Regions from separate parts of the Homo sapiens genome. Here all the other regions are linked to region 3. A link means that fine-mapping ties the variant in region 3 to the plasma level of a protein whose gene starts in the linked region. Region 3 holds a variant in brackets. A gene starts in each other region. All regions are shown on their reverse strands.

Region 1 (5,220 bases), not on the chromosome of region 3:
TCTATGGAAAATAATGCCAATCCATAATGAAAATAGTCTTTAAGTGAATCTAACCACAACACACGTTAGAGACTGGGGAAGCAGCAAATTTGAGCCTTATTGAGCAATACTGAATTTGCCTTATTAATTCAAGAGAAAAAGAAAAGAAATTATTCTTAGGCTTTGCAGTCTTTGCATGTAGTTACAATTATTCCCCATGTGCATATCTGAGACAATAAGGAGGCTCTTCAAAAACAAGTTATACTTTATACTTATTCATGCCTTACAGCGAAATGGCCCAGAGAACCACGTGACCTGCATCAGAATGTAGCAACAAGTCCCTTTTGAGTATTTACAAATCCCCTCACTTCACCGCAAGCAGAAGAACTAGTTCGCAACAACGAGTTAGGTGAATGGTTCTCCATCTGACATTAGTGGATGTTGGGCTCTACATTAAAAATAGAATTTATTGTGGAAGGTCAATTGTCTCCAAATGCACCATCAGACTCGGCAATGCTCATTGGCCAGTATCACTCCCTCCTTATGACTCAGAGTCAGAACCACACACTTATTAATGAGCTTTCTGAAGTAGCACATCAATTGACTTTAATTTGGTGGTGACCTGAAGTCAATTTAAAAAATATGCTGGCTAGCCATGGTGTTGAGCAGTTGGAAAAATAGTATGAAATGTCTTAAAAATTAAAACACACACATGTCTCCCCCTGCTCTTACAATGTGTTTGCAGCCCGTGAAGGAAACAGAATAGGAAATCCTTGTCTTAGATGACAATTCAATACGTGCCATTAAGACAATTTTTTTTTCCCTGCAAGGTGGTGTATTGGAGAGTGGAGTTCTCAGAGGTAGAACTGCTTTAGAAAATCCAGTAAGCTGCTGGGTAGATTCAGGTTCTTTTTATATGTGTGTTAGTCACAACACAGATTCAAAAGGGGGTGGGGGAGGGAGAGCTGGACTCAGTTCAAGGCCACCAAGCCATTGTTAGAAAGAGACAGCTAATTAAGAAAGGCCATGCTGTGGTGGAAACGATTTGTTTAAACCAAATCTCTTTCCCTATCTTTCCCAGAGAAACTGTCCAGACCTGGTGTAAATTGTGGACATTATTGCCCCATAAAAAAGGGGTGGGGGTTCTTCAATGATATGCTTTGTTAAACAAAAGGTGATGAACAATTTCCTTTGCTCTGCACTCTGGGCTCTACATTTAAAAAGACGGGGAGATGGGGGATAAAATGCCTGATTTATGCTGAGGGGGGCACTCCAGGCCACCGGGAAGGGTTGAAGGGAAAGGGACCCAGAGCCAGGGCCCATGGAGCTGAGAGCTGTCCAGGGCCTTTGGTGCTGAAAGCAGGTGCGCGCGCTGGGGGTCCAGAACTCCCCGGAGAAGAACACCGCCTGTCCCCCAACTCCGAGTCAAGACGGTGCAAATGACAGAGGCGGAGCCCCAGATAAGCATAGTGCCTGCGCTCCCTCTGTCTTCAGCCTGGGCAGACCCTGCAGCTGTCTGCTTTTTTACACGTGAGGAGCGCATTTCTGGGACCTTGCAAGAAGGCCGGGTCCTGTGGCCAACTAACCCTCCCATTGATTTTCGGGTCTCCTAGGTGCCTGAGAAAACCCCCGAAGCTCTGAGGGTTAGCTTTGGGTGAGTTAGGCGTTGCACCCCTCTCTCTATCTGGCCCTCTCCCCCACCCATAACTTTTCCTGGGGTACCTTACCGGGGTGGAGAGAGGGTATGGTTCCAGGTCTGAGAAAGAGGAGCTGTCATTCTCTGCTAAATTTGGGCCCCTCTTCCCCTTCAACAAACACGTGGTAGATGAAACTAACACCCCTCACCCCCCATTCCTAACAGTGATCAGAGATGCTAGGCAGTAGGGGAGAGAGTAGAGGGGAGCCCGTTCAGGTTCCCAACTGCTAACTAACATCTCTTCTCCCTCCCCTACCAAGTTCTCAGAGCCCTCAGCCCCCTCCACCGGCCTCTAGCGAAAGCCACACCCAAGTCCGGTATCCTGACGCTTGGCTGAGATCGATCCAGGAACACAGACCCTCGGGGTAGCCTGAACCAAAGGAGTCAAGGGTTTCTGTGGTGTCGGGGGGAGCGGCAAATGCACTGTTTGAGTCTAGTCCTCAGTTGCAGGGTGGGTCAGCTTCTCACCCCCCTTCCTGTCCTCTCCCGGAGAGGAAGATAATTATCTGGCACCTAGCCCCGGGTGCGGTTGCAGAGAAGCGCCGGGAATTTGGGGTTTGGAGGCGACCCCACTCCAAGGAGAACCTCTTTGGCTGCAAAGGAGAATCAGCCCCGCAGCCGGGGAAGACCGAAAGGGAGCCCGCAGCCGAAGCAGGGAAGCGCCCGAGTCCTTCAACACATCCCCGCCTCCACACTCCCATCAGCCCGGGCCAAGGGGACGTGCGGTTCCTAGCCCCGATTTTGGACAGCCACCACCGCTTCCCATCCCGGCGGGTGGTGCCTGAGTCGCCCTGGTCAGCCCCGACCCCTGGCTGCCCCGCTCTCCCGGCAACTTTGCCCCCTGCCCGCCCCGCCCCTCGGGGCGCTTACCTCGCTCCAGCGCTGCCGCCGGGCTCCCCAGGAGCAGAGCGAGGAACAGCGAGATCCCGCGGAGTCCCGCGGCGGGCGGCCGGGCCGCGGGCATCGTGGCTGCAGGGGGCGCGGAGCCGCTGGCTGTGGGGCGGGCGGACGGCGAGGGAGCTGGGGAAGGAGGGCGGCGGTGAGCGAGAAAGGGGAAGCGGGAGCGAGGGAGGAGGCCGCGGGCCGGGGCAGCTTCCGGAGCCCCCTGGGCGGACGCGCGCTCAGCCCCGCGGTCGCTCTGGCCGAGCTGCGCCGGGCGCGGGCGGGCGAGTGAGGAGGAGCCGGCGAGCGAGCGAACGAGCGTGGAGCGAGCGGGAGGAGGGAGGGGGCTGGGGCCGAGTCTGTGCCGAGCGAGTGCAGGGAGGGAGGGGGCGGGCGAGCGGGCAGTGAGCTGGAGGGGCCGCGGCGGCGCCGGGGGTGCCAGCCGCCTCCTCTGGCCGCCGGCCCGTCGGCCCTGCAAAGTTTAACGCCAATTCCCCTTGCGTCCTGGGAGCCGAGCGTTTTCTCTCCCTGCTGACGCTCCCAGCAGCTCTGCCTGGCCAGGCCAGGCTGGAGAGCACCCGGACCATTTTCCAGACGGTGAGATGGAGCCCTGGAAACCGAGCTTATGAGCAGCCCGGAGCTTTCCATTGCCTGCCCAGCCTTCCAGATACATCCCAGTTCCAGTTCTTTCCAGAGCCCTCTGGGATCCAGCCAGCCTGCTTCCCCGCCAGGGCCTCACTGCTTCCAAAGTGAGTCCCCATAACCTAGAAAGTCTGTAACTCTGTGGATCTGGTGACAGCTGTGAATCTACTAGAACACTACACATAGCCACAAAATCGTGCATCTAACACGAGGGGGTCTGGACCCCTCTGAAGCCCAATCACGAACTCTAAATTAAGATCCACCTCCACTTTTTAATCTGAGCCCTGTCTCCCATAACCCCACTGCCGGCAGGGCACTAGCGCTGCGAGGCTTCCTCTCAGGTCAGCCGCTTGCCTCTTCCTGTACCCGCTTCCCTATCTGAGCAGGACTACAAGGCCCACCTCTGCAGCATTCTTGCCCAGGCCTGATTCTCAAGCAAAGTCTTTTCTCCACAAATAGAGGTAGTGAGGGACAATCAATGAGGGAGATAAACAGATACTTGGGGACAGACATTGGCAGAGAGCTAGGTGGGGACAAGCTTATGCACAGTCCTGGAGACTGACTGTCTCTCCCTGCGTAGCCTTGGCAGACCGGTCAGGCTTTACAGGCCTCTCACCCAATTTAGAAGCTGTCCTCCTCCCCCTACCCTACCTTGCCATACTATCTACACACTGCAGCCTGAACAGGCAGAGGGAGCAGATGGAGAGAAGGTTGCAGGCAGCAACAGGGGGAGGAATATGTCTTTAGCAGCGTGGTGGAGCCGGGAGTCCCTAGAAAGAATGGGTGGGGGAGGTGAACACTGGATGGAGGAGGGAAGGAGAAGCACTCTGGCCCAGGGTTTCAGAAGACGCTCCACACCCAGAGCTTCCCCATTTACTCACTCAAACAATGCTCTTTTACAGGCCACTGACTATAGGCCCAGACCTGCCTCAGGCTTTGGGGGACAGAGAGCCCCCCCATAAAATCCTATCTTCAGCTGCAAGAGGTTTCCATTCCTGGCAGTAAACCCAACTGGCTTTTATAAAGAAGGTGGCTGAGGCAGGGATGCAGGAGTGCTGATTTCTCCTTTGGAGAAGATGAAGCACTCCATGCTTTACTGTATGAGGCTGCCAGCTCTCTGTGGAATGACCTTGCCTGTTTGTGGCTATACGCTCAGGCTCTGTATAGTATAATGCAGGCATGCAGCGGGTGCTCAGTGAGACTTGTTCAATGGAAACCTAAAGAAGCAAGGAAGATGGAGGAGGAGGGGAAAGGGAAGAAAGCGAGCGAGAGAAAAACGAAGAGGTAGTTTAGCTCCATACTTGGAGGCAAGGAAACTATTTTTAATTCCTAGGTTCAGGGGTACTTGTGCAGGTTTGTTATGTGTGCAAACTTGTGTCATGGGAGTTTGTTGTACAGATGATTTCACCAACCAGGTATTAAGCCTGGTACTCAATAGTAATTTTTTTCTGATCCTCTCCCTCCTCCTGCCTTCCACCCTCTGGTAGGCCTCTGTGTGTGTTGTTCCCCTCTATGTGTCTGTGTGCTCTCATCATTTAGCTCCCACCTATAAGTGAGAACTTGTGATATTTGGTTTTCTGTTCCTGCATTAGTGTGCTAAGGATAATGGTCTCCAGCTCCATTCATGTTTTTGCAAAGAACATGATCTCATTCTTTTTTATGACTGCATAGTATTCCATGGTGTATATGTACCGTATATATGCTCATTCATTGATGAGCATTTAGGTTGATTCCATGTCTTTGCTCTTGTGAATAGTGCTGCAATGAACATACATGGGCATGTGTCTTTATAATAGAACAATTTATATTCCTTTGGGTATATACCCAGTAATGTCAGACAACCTACAGAATGGGAGAAAAATTTTACAAACTATGCATCTGCAAAAGTCTAATATCCAGCATCTATAAGGAACTTAAACAAATTTACAGGAAAAAAACCAAACAACCCAACTGAGAAGGAAACTATTGTGTAAAGAATCCACTGTTTGCCAGGTGCTGTCCCACACCGAGCATGGTCTCTC
Region 2 (5,222 bases), not on the chromosome of region 3:
GAAAGGGTTTCACCATGTTGCCCAGGCTGGTCTCAAACTCCTGATCTCAAGTGATCTGCCCACCTCCGCCTCCCAAAGTGCTAGGATTACAAGCATGAGCCACTACGCCCAGCCTTTCATAGTATTTAAAATACAGTTACATTTATTTTTTTCATATTTATCGCCATTTCAGGCAATACATCATAGGGTCTAATAACAGACTGTGAAGCCAAACTGCCTGGATTTGACGCCAGCTCTACCACTTTACTAGCTGTTAAGTTATTTAACCTCTCAGTTTCCTTATCTTTTTTTTTTTTTTTTTTTTTTTTTTTTTGAGACGGAGTCTCGCTCTTTCGCCCAGGCTGAAGCACAGTGGCGCGATCTCGGCTCACTGCAAGCTCCACCTCCCAGGTTCACACCATTCTCCTGCCTCAGCCTCCTGAGTAGCTGGGACTACAGGTGCCCGCCACCACACCCAGCTAATTTTTTGTATTTTTAGTACAGACGGGGTTTCACCGTGTTAGCCAGGATGGTCTCGATCTCCTGACCTCGTGATCCGCCCGCCTCGGCCTCCCAAAGTGCTGGCATTACAGGCGTGAGCCACCGCGCCCGGCCTCAGTTTCCTTATCTTTAAAATGGGGATGACAACAATATTACCTACCATATAGGGTTTTTGTGAGGATTAAATTAGTTGCTATGAGGATTAAATATGTAAAATGCTTAAAACAGCCACCCCAGTTCCAGTTCATTCCTGAGGTCCCACTGTATTCTGGAGACACTCTTGTATCCTTACAATAAATTCCTTGTGGCCGGTGGGGGTGGCTCGTGCCTGTAATCCCAGCACTTCGGGAGGCCAAGGCAGGAGGATTGCTAGAGCCCAATCCAGCAATCCTGGTTCAAGACCAGCTTAGGCAACATGGTGAAACCCTGTCTCTATAAAAAATTTAAAAAATAAAAATAATAGATTTCTTTTTCTTGCTAAAAGCAGTTTAAACTTGTTTCTGTTGCATGTATCCAATCTTAACTGCTGGATAATATCATTTGTATAAATATACTTCCATGTAGCCATTCTTCCGTTGATAGTCATTTTATTTTCAATTTTTTTCACTCTTAGAAACAAAACTGTAATGAACTTCTTGCATGTGTCTCTCTGCACATATTCATTAATTTCTCTAGGGCATATACCTAGAATTGCAATTGTCACAGCCTTGGGATTTTAATTTCCAAAATCTGACTCTGCCTCTTCCTGCGCTTTCTTACGCTTTCACTTCCAGCAAGCTGGAAGCCTCTTTAAACGTGGAAATCAGAGATAGTAGCCCTAATAAGGGTACAATAATAAATCATTCTTTGCAAGACTACACCTGTTCTAGGGTTTCATAAAGATCTCTGCTCCTCCCATGGCCAATAACTCAGTGGTTCTGATTTGAAAGCAGCAACCCTGTGACTCGCCACCTCGCGTATTCCCTGGTGTGAGTGGAGCCTGGAGTTCTCGTGTGTGGGGTGGAGGAGCCGTGCTGGGGACCCATGAGGCTGGAGAGGCCGGCACAGGCCAGACCATAAGGGGCCACGTGTTTCAGGGCAATGTACGTTGCGCTGGGGCCTACTGCCTCCCTTAGGACAGGGATGGGGCGACCTCCATCGTTTCAACCACAGGACACAGCGATGGCGGGGAGCTGAAGTCCTACTGCCGTCTGATCTTACTCCGCTCTTCCCCTTCAATCCCATCCAAATAGTGTGGGGGTTGGCCTCGAGGTTTCTCAACGTCCTTAAGCCCTGATTTAATACCTATGCATAGGGCCTTTCATTTATAGGGTTTTCCACCTGACGGGCCCTCTTCCGCTGCCGTTTCGCTTTGGCGCCCTCTGGCGCCCATAAACGAAGTGACGCGCCTGCGCTTCCCCCACCCTCTGCCCTTCGTCTCTTCCCCAGGTCGAATTGGTACCTCTACCTTTAGACACAGGGCCTAGCGGAAGAATTCCAGGGCCTAAGACTAGAAACGCGCGCTTGAAGCTCCCTCAGATTGGTCCAGTGAGGGAAGGGGAGGGCTGTAGCAAACTCCACAAAAGTCATTGGTCTCTTTCCTCAGGCTCCGCCCCGTGAGGCAATAGAGAACTCCCGTAATTGGTCGGAGCTCTGGAGGCGGGGCTTCGAGCGTGGCTCGTGGGTTTTCCGTGAAGTCGCGGTGCAGCGGTGGGCGGCATGTCTGTGGCCGGTGGGGAGATTCGTGGGGACACGGGGGGAGAGGACACTGCTGCTCCCGGCCGGTTCAGCTTCAGCCCGGAGCCCACGCTCGAGGACATGTAAGCAGGCCTGGCCCAGCTCGGGGTGGGGAAGTCGCCCCTTTCTCCCGCGTTTTGGGGAGGGTTCCTCCACGTGGTCGGGAAGCGGGCTGGCAGCGGGGCTCGGGTCCTGGCTCTGTGGGCTGTCCCTGGGTGAGCCTTCTTACCTCATCTGCAAAATGGGCGCAGCGGTGCACACCTGAGGCAAGGGAAATTGGGTGGTGCCTCCGAGTGGTAACTAGGAACGCCCTTCAGCCTAGCCCTGGGAAGATACCGGCACCAGATACCGCCTCTGCTCTCCAGGCGCCGGGGGTACGAGAGGGGCAAACGAAGTGCTGAGAGGTGGGAGACGTTATTTTTTGCTGGAGGAGGTCAAGAAAGGCTTCTTAGAGGAAGGGTCTGTGGAACTACCTTCTGTAAGAGAAATTGCATTTTGATGTGCGGCGATTCCAGGTGGAGGAAACTGCAGAAGTAGCAGCAGGAGATGGAATAATGAAGAGGGTTTTGTTAGTTTTGGCGAGATGTTAAGGGCAGTTCAGGGGCACGCCCATTTTATAGATGAGGGAACCAAGTTCCGGAAAGAGGAAATGACCTGCACAATACCATCCAATGAATTAGTTGCAGAATCTCCTGGTCCCAGGCCCCATTACATACTACGGGGGTAGCTGCCTCTGGCCCCTGCATCACCCTCTAACCCGGAGACTTGGACTTACACTCCTTTGTCCTATTTCAGCCGCCGCCTCCATGCTGAGTTTGCTGCGGAACGAGACTGGGAACAGTTCCATCAGCCTCGGAATCTCCTCCTGGCCTTGGTTGGGGAAGTGGGGGAGCTGGCAGAACTCTTGTGAGTAGATGGAAAGCTTCCTGGTAGAGTCTGAGTTGTGGGGGAGGGGAGGGGAGCATTTATTTGGTCTTCAAACATTCATGGGTTCAGTTTCCCCTCCTGATTGCTAGGCTCTTTGCTGTTGTTGGGATGCAGAGAGGACTCACGGGTCCCTGCCCTCTAGGGGCACTCAGCCTCCTGGAAGAGAGAGGTGTGAGGTGTGAAAGCATCAGGACAGGTCCCGTCTAGGAAGAAGCAGTGGCAACAACCCTTTTCCCTTCTTTTGTTTTTTGTTTTTTTGGCTTTTTTTTGAGACGGGGTCTCGCTCTGTCGCCCAGGCTGGAGTGCAGTGGCTCAATTTCGGCTCACTGCAACATCCGCCTCCTGGGTTTAAGCAGTTCTGTCTCAGCCCCCCGAGTAGCTGGGACTACAGGTGCCCCCCACCACGCCTGGCTAATTTTTGTATTTTTAGTGGAGACGGGGTTTCACCATATTGGTCAGGCTAGTCTCAAATTCCTGACCTCAGGTGATCCACCCGCCTTGGCCTCCCAAAGTGCTGGGATTACAGGGGTGAGCCACCACGCCTGGCCCAACAACCCTTTTCCTCTGCCTCTGGGGCTGAAAGGAAGGTATTCTGTAGAGGACCTGCCTGTGGCATTCCAGACATGGGAACTACATTTGCAGGGGCAGTGAGGCAAGAAAGGGCAAGTTCAATTCAGGGAGAATCTGACGCTCCTTCATTGTAAGCATCTCAGGAAAAATCAGGGATTTGGGATCTGTTTTCTCTGATGTGTCCCAAGTGCCCAGCGCATAGTAGGCGCTCAATAGGCACACGTTGGATGAGTGATAGGGCTGTGGAGGAGAGGGGTGGGAGTTGAACCCACAAAGATATGATTAGGGCTAGAGTATGATGGAGAGTTTGGACAGAAGACCTGACCAGATATGAGTGTTGGAAAGGTCACTGTGTCTACAGGGTGGATTGGATGGATCACTGAGAGAATGGGGCAGGGGACACCAGAGAGTTGGCTGGTGTAGACCAGGCAAGAGGCGATGAGCCCTAGACCAGGACAGTCATTTTTTTAAGAGAAAAGGTCTCACTCTGTTGCTGAGGCTGGAGTGTACTGGTGTGATCATAGCTCACTGAAGCCTCAGGAGCTCAAACGATCCTCCCACCTCAGCCTTCGGAGTAGCTGGGTCTACAGGCGTGCGCCACCACCAAGCCTGGCTAATTTATTTTTACTTTTTGTAGAGATGGGATCTCTCGCTGTTGTTGCCCAGGCTGGTCTCAAACTCCTGGTCTCAAGTGATTCACTTGCCTCACCATCCCGCAGCACTGGGGTTACAGGTTGAACCACTGCACATGGCCTCATGACAGATTTATGAACATCACCTATGTGCTAGGTCTTCTAGAATTGAGATATGGCCTGGAACAAGGCAGAAAGGTTTCCACCTTCACAGTGGAAGGAGATTGACAGTAAATCAGTAATCTCATATTAGAAGATCTGGAATTATGACAAGTTCTATGAGGAAAAGAACACAAGGTGATGACCCAGTCTGGCCAACATGGTGAAACCCTGTCTCTACTAAAAATACAAAAATTAGCCAGGCATGGTGGCGGGCGCCTGTAATCCCAGCTACTCAGGAGGCTGAGGCACAAGAATCGCTTGAACCCAGGAGGCAGAGACTGCAGTTAGCCAAGATCACACCATGGCACTCCAGCCTGGGCGACAGAGCAAGACTCTGCCTTAAAAAAAAAAAACAAAAAAGGGGCTGGGCGGGGTGGCTCACACCTGTAATCCCAGCACTTTGGGAGGCTGAGACGGGCAGATCATGAGGTTAGGAGATCAAGACCATCCTGGCTAACACGGTGAAACCCCGTCTCTACTAAAAATACAAAAAAATTAGCCGGGCGTGGTGGCGGGCGCCTGTAGTCCCAGCTACGCAGGAGGCTGAGGCAGGAGAATGGCGTGAACCCAGGAGGCGGAGCTTGCAGTGAGCCGAGATCGCGCCACTGCACTCTAGCCTGGGCGACAGAGCAAGGCTCCGTCTCAAAAAAAAAAAAAACCCAACGAAAAAGGTCCAGGTGCGGTGGCTCACACCTGTAATCCCAGCACTTTGGGAGGCCGAGGCAGGCAGATCAC
Region 3 (5,222 bases):
CACTTTGGGAGGCTGAGGCAGCCAGATCACTTGAAGTCAGGAGTTCGAGACCAGTCTGACCAGCATAGTAAAACCCCATCTCTACTAAAAATGTAAAAATTAGCCAGCTGTGGTGTCACACACCTGTAATCGCAGCTACTTGGGAGGCTGAGGCAGGAGAATTGCTTGAACCCAGGAGGTGGAGGTTGCAGTGAGCCAAGATCATGCCACTGCACTCCAGCCTGGGCAGCAAAGCAAGACTCTGTCAAAAAAGAAAAAAGAAAAAAGAAAAAAGAAACAAATCTTGCCACCATCAAGTTCCCATCATCCATTTCTCTTTGTGCATTTATTGGCAGATTGATAAGGCAGGACAGATCCTAAAAGTGATTGGAATGTAAATAAAGGAGATCTCTGCCTCTACTAAATAAATACACAATAAAAATTAAAAGGAGATCTCCTCTGACCAAGGTATTTCAGTAAAGTTGCAAATATGAAGGTAAGTATTGCTGCTGGTTGAGTAGTCTTATGGAAAAGCCCTTCAATCGGGTCGCGGTTTATCGTTCTAGAAACTGGGAAAAGTATTTTGTACGAGAGGACAGTGGAGGTTCCTGCTCAGCATCTGTTCTTTCCTGTGGCCTCCAGTCTCAGTAGAGACCCTAGGAGAAGAGTTTACTGTGACTGGAGCAGAAGAGCAGGCTGCAGTTAACTTGGTCCCTGGCAGAATTACAGAAGTAAAATGAGGTCTTCAGGAATCACTGGAGGGAAATGATACTGAGAGTGGCAATAGCAACAAATTCTGAGCAGGAAAGCAATAACTCATGGGGATCAACTAGTGACTGATTTACTCAACCCATATGCAGTGCTCTAACCCAATGTTGACTCTGCTAGGTAAGAAAGATGGGGTGGGGATGGATGGGAGGAAGAAATGAAGAAATGAGAAGAACAGTGGTCTCTGTCCTGAGGAACCCTCATTACAATGGGAAAGATAGGATATTTGCAGGAGACAGATATAAAAACAATACAAACCTATCCTGTGCTTCACCTGAATTAGAGCAGAAAGTCGTAGAATTAAAAATTGAGGCTGGGCACGATGCCTGATGCCTGTAATCCCAGCACTTTGGGAGGCCGAGGCAGGTGGATCACCTCAGCTCAGGAGTTTGAGACCAGCCTGGCAAACATGGTGAAACCCCATCTCTACTAAAAATACAAAAAATTAGCCAGGGGTTGTGGCACGTGCCTGTAATCCCAACTATTTGGAAGGCTGAGACAGGAGAATTGCTTGAACCCGGGAGGTGGAGGTTGTAGTGAGCCGAGATCACGCCATTGCACTCCTGCCTGGGTGACAGAGTAAGCGACTCAGTCTCAAAATAAATAAATAAATAAATAAATAAAAATTGAGGAAAAGTGTGAGTGTTAGAAGAAACAATTGATTATAGAGCCAAAATATCTAATCAGAAAGATTGTGATTTCAGACATATCTGCATAATCTCTCTTCTTTACCTCCTCCCCCTGTAGCCCACTATCACCCTGCATTGACAGCCAAGAGCTGAGAGCCCCCGGAGCTGATCAGATTTCACTAGCAATCACAGCACACAACTTGGATGAGTGGCAATATGCTTTCCTCTAGAATGTGAAGGTGGAAGGCCCAAGAATCGAGCTTGGAGTGATAGTCCTGGCAGTAGGTCTCCCCTACTTGGCCTCCCATAGGCTTTTCCAACCACCCAGCATGATCGGTCCCTGTCCCCTGTCCAACAGCTGAGAATATGGTCAGAAAAGAGCCCTCCAATTTGAAGGGTAGTTCTGAATATTAAGGTACTTCTGAATAGTAAGAAGTAATAACATAAATATATGAAGAATATAGTAGCTCAGAGAAACAGGCTTGCACCATGAAGGGTTAGGACAGTCATAAAATGGAAATCATGTTTATATGAGAAACAACATAGCCTCAAGGGAAACAAAAGCCAGTATCAGGCTTTGGTGAAAACTTAGAACAAGGAGAGATTGTAAACTAACCAGACGTGTGAAGAGCAAATAGCAGAGCCTACCTACATAGCACAACTCCTGCCTGCATGGCCATCAGGACACAGTCAGTGCCGACCTCAAGGACACTTTTGATGATAACTTTTAAAACATACCATTTTACTTTCTGCTTTTTAGATTATCAAGTCATGTGAGAAACAGATAACTTCATCTAATTTCTGTGCTTAAATTCATTATGCCCTGCCATTCTGGTGATTTTTCATTTTGGACTTGGCCATTTTGATTTGTGGTATAAAAACAGCTGTGAAAACCAGCCTCATTAAAATGTTTTCATTAGAAACACCCCCCCAAAAAAACCTGTATTAATTAGAAACACCTGAAAAAAAACAGATAATACACAAAGTGATAACTTTTCTTGAACCCGTCAGAGTGCTGAGGTAGTGAGGCAACCAAGTACCCTGAAATCTAAGAAAAGACAGGTGTTTCTAAAGAGGGCTAGGATATGAGCACAGGCTCACCTGTAAGACAGCGTGGAAGGAAGGCAGGGCTACCATTCAAATGGGTTAGAAGAATTCAGCTAAAATTTTTAATAAATCGCTGAAAGCCAGATGTGGCCAAGAACTGAGAGCTCATGATACAAGGGCCATTCCTACGCATTTGAAGCATCTTCATGGGCCTCCACCAGAGCTCATGAAAAGCTTGTGGCCAGGGAATACATACCTAGGTAATGGAGCAGCCATCATTCTGGGAAAGGCATGAAGCCCACCTGAATCCTTTTTTCTAAGGAACAAATGTCTTAAATCACTAGAATAAGGGCCCAGGGCACAGAGCAGAGGAAAAGAGCCCATTACACCTGGAGGAAAGGAACAGGAAAAAACAACAACAACAACAACAACAAAAAACAACTCTCTACCCTTGGGGAAGGGGCTGGAAACCATCCCAAGCCTAGATGATTACAGGTCTTCTACCA[T/C]TGAGTGAGATCTAGGATCACTGAAAAAGCCCTATCCTCAAGATCCAGGGACAGAAGGCCCGACTAAAACTGAGGCGGGACTAGAACAGCTGTCACAGCCCCACACGTTCTTCTTAGCCACTGCCCTGAAAAAATCAACAAGAACAGCGGCTATTGCAGCAAAGAAAGAGTTTAATAATCACAGGGCCAGCCATGTGAAGAGAGCAAGCAGCAATTTCTCAAACACATCTCCCTGACAATTCAGAGACTAGGGTTTTTCATGGGTACTTTGGTGGGCAGGAGGCTTGGAAACTGGAACAATCGATTGGCTGGGGATGAAATTACAGGGGTGTCTAAAGCTGTCTTCACGCAGCCAAGTCAGTTCCCAGGAGTGGGTGGATCTCAGGACCTAGTGGCGTCTCTTGGTCTACTGAAATGTTGAATCTGAAAAATACCTCGAAGACTCGTTCTTCAGGGTTCACAATAGTGATGTTATCTATAGGAGTAGTTGGGGAAGTTATAAATTTTGCAATCCCCGGTTACGTGACTCTGGTGCAGTAAGCAACATGCTACTGTAAGGACACATGGAAAGCAAGGAAGTGAGGAAGACACACTAAGCAATGGCAGGTCATTGTTTAACTGAGTCTATTCTTCAGCAAAGTTAAAGTCCCTACCGTATTTTAACCTTGTCTTATGAATGCAGTTTCAATCTTGAACAAGGAGGGAGTTCAGTTTCCCTTGACTCAAAGTTTAACTATAAACGTCACTCATAGCTATTTTGACCTCCATGCTAGAATAAGAAAAAAAAAACTCGCCTGTGGGTTAGAAGCAGGATGGAGTCAGTCATGTTAGATTTCTCTCTTTATTCGTTTATTTTTTATTTTTATTTATTTATTTATTTATTTATTGAGATGGAGTCTTGCTCTGTCACCCAGGCTGGAGTGCAGTGGTGGGATCTTGGCTCACTGCAAACTCTGCCTCCCTGGTTCAAGCAATTCTCCACCTGCCTCAGCCTCCCAAGTAACTGGGATTACAGGCGCCTGCCGCCACTCCCAGCTAATTTTGTAGTTTTAGTAGAGACTGGATTTCACCATCTTGGCCAGGCTGGTCTCGAACTTCTGACCTCAGGTGATCCACCTGCCTCAGCTTCCCAAAGTGCTGGGATTACAAACATGAGCCACCACGCCCAGCCAGATTTCTCTCCTTATTTATATATATATATTCTGCAAAGGCAATTTCACAATGGATAAATCTCTGCCCTACCTCCCAGGCTAGCAAGTACTGAATAAGAAGCAAAAGTACTCTGCCACTGAAGAGAGAATCTCTGAGGTGCAGGCACATACTTTAGAAAGTCCTAAAGTTGGGGTAGTGCAGGAAAATTGAGAAAATACCATCCAGGAGTACCGGCGGCTCTTGGTCTACTGAAATGCTGCCTCCACCCAAGCACAAGATAACACTAGAAGAATTTGAAGGTAACTATGGCAATAATAAAACCCGAACCCAGCTCAACTCTTGACTAGATTGGCCCACACTAAGAGCTTACCAGAATAAGACGGGTTCTCATTTCTAATCATAAATGCAATTTACCTCAGTTCCTACTGTCCCACATATAATGTCCAGAATTCAATAAAAACAATGAGCCAACACAGAAAAGCAAGGTTTAAAAATCCTGTCAACAGACAATGCAAGCAATAGAAACTGCTAAAAGATGATTCAGATGTTGGTACTATCAAATAGGGAATTTTAAAATCAAACCATTAATTACAACCATATTTAACATGTTAAAGGCTCTAGTGGAAAAGGTAGACAACATACATAAACAGATGGGGAATTTCAGCAGAAAGATAGAAACTATACGAAGAGTCAAATGGAAATATTAGCAAATTTTGAAACAGAGTAAAAGAGAAGAAGAATGTATTAGGCAGGGTCATCAGTAGATGCCATACAGCTGAGAAAAAAAAAATCAGTACTTTGAAAATGGGTTCATAGAAATTACCCAAACTGAAATTCAAGGAATAAAAAAAAAGAAAATAGAACAGAACACCCAAGAACTGTGGGACAATGTAAACTGGCCTAACATATATGTAATTGAAATCCCAGAGAATAGAGAAAGAATGGGAGAGAGGAAACATTTAAAGAGAAAATGGCCAACAATTTTTCAAAAATAATGGAAGTTATCAAACCACAAATCCAAGAAGGACAAAGAAGCATAGGCAGACTAAAATACACACACACACACACACACACACACACACACACACACTCCTAAACATATCATATTTAAACTGCTGAAAATCACAGATAAATAGAGCAT

Alleles and levels. Alleles are on the strand shown, and positions count from the first base shown. The strength of an association depends on the size of the effect and on how common the allele is.
With allele T in place of C in region 3, the plasma level of the protein whose gene starts at base 2,847 in region 1 is lower (weak association).
With allele C in place of T in region 3, the plasma level of the protein whose gene starts at base 2,129 in region 2 is higher (weak association).

The links. A credible set is the group of variants that fine-mapping cannot tell apart. PIP is the chance, under the fine-mapping model, that this variant and not a neighbour inherited with it causes the effect. Protein levels are from antibody-based Olink assays in UK Biobank. Linkage for the fine-mapping came from a reference panel and not from the study's own genotypes, which makes the PIPs less certain.
Region 1: it holds the start of SEZ6L, and the variant in region 3 is the best candidate, but not a certain one, in a credible set for the plasma level of the SEZ6L protein (UK Biobank, PIP 0.68).
Region 2: it holds the start of DCTPP1, and the variant in region 3 is the best candidate, but not a certain one, in a credible set for the plasma level of the DCTPP1 protein (UK Biobank, PIP 0.84).

Annotation. Positions count from the first base shown.
Region 1 is chr22:26,167,089-26,172,308 of GRCh38, reverse strand. SEZ6L (seizure related 6 homolog like) reads right to left here and starts at 2,847. Exons shown (of 17, transcript NM_021115.5): 1 at 2,546-2,847. The coding sequence starts at 2,639. LOC105372971 (a long non-coding RNA gene) reads left to right here and starts at 3,075. Exons shown (of 6, transcript NR_188586.1): 1 at 3,075-3,306. RefSeq lists an enhancer at 929-1,868 and a silencer at 2,695-2,824.
Region 2 is chr16:30,426,937-30,432,158 of GRCh38, reverse strand. DCTPP1 (dCTP pyrophosphatase 1) reads left to right here and starts at 2,129. Exons shown (of 3, transcript NM_024096.2): 1 at 2,129-2,279; 2 at 2,992-3,102. The coding sequence starts at 2,179. RefSeq lists enhancers at 1,682-1,791, 2,192-2,271, 3,025-3,525, 3,526-4,026.
Region 3 is chr1:161,570,153-161,575,374 of GRCh38, reverse strand. No RefSeq gene overlaps it. Among named protein-coding and RNA genes, the nearest start is that of FCGR3A, 23 kb to the right of the region's middle. The variant T/C (reference allele first, on the strand shown) is at 2,930.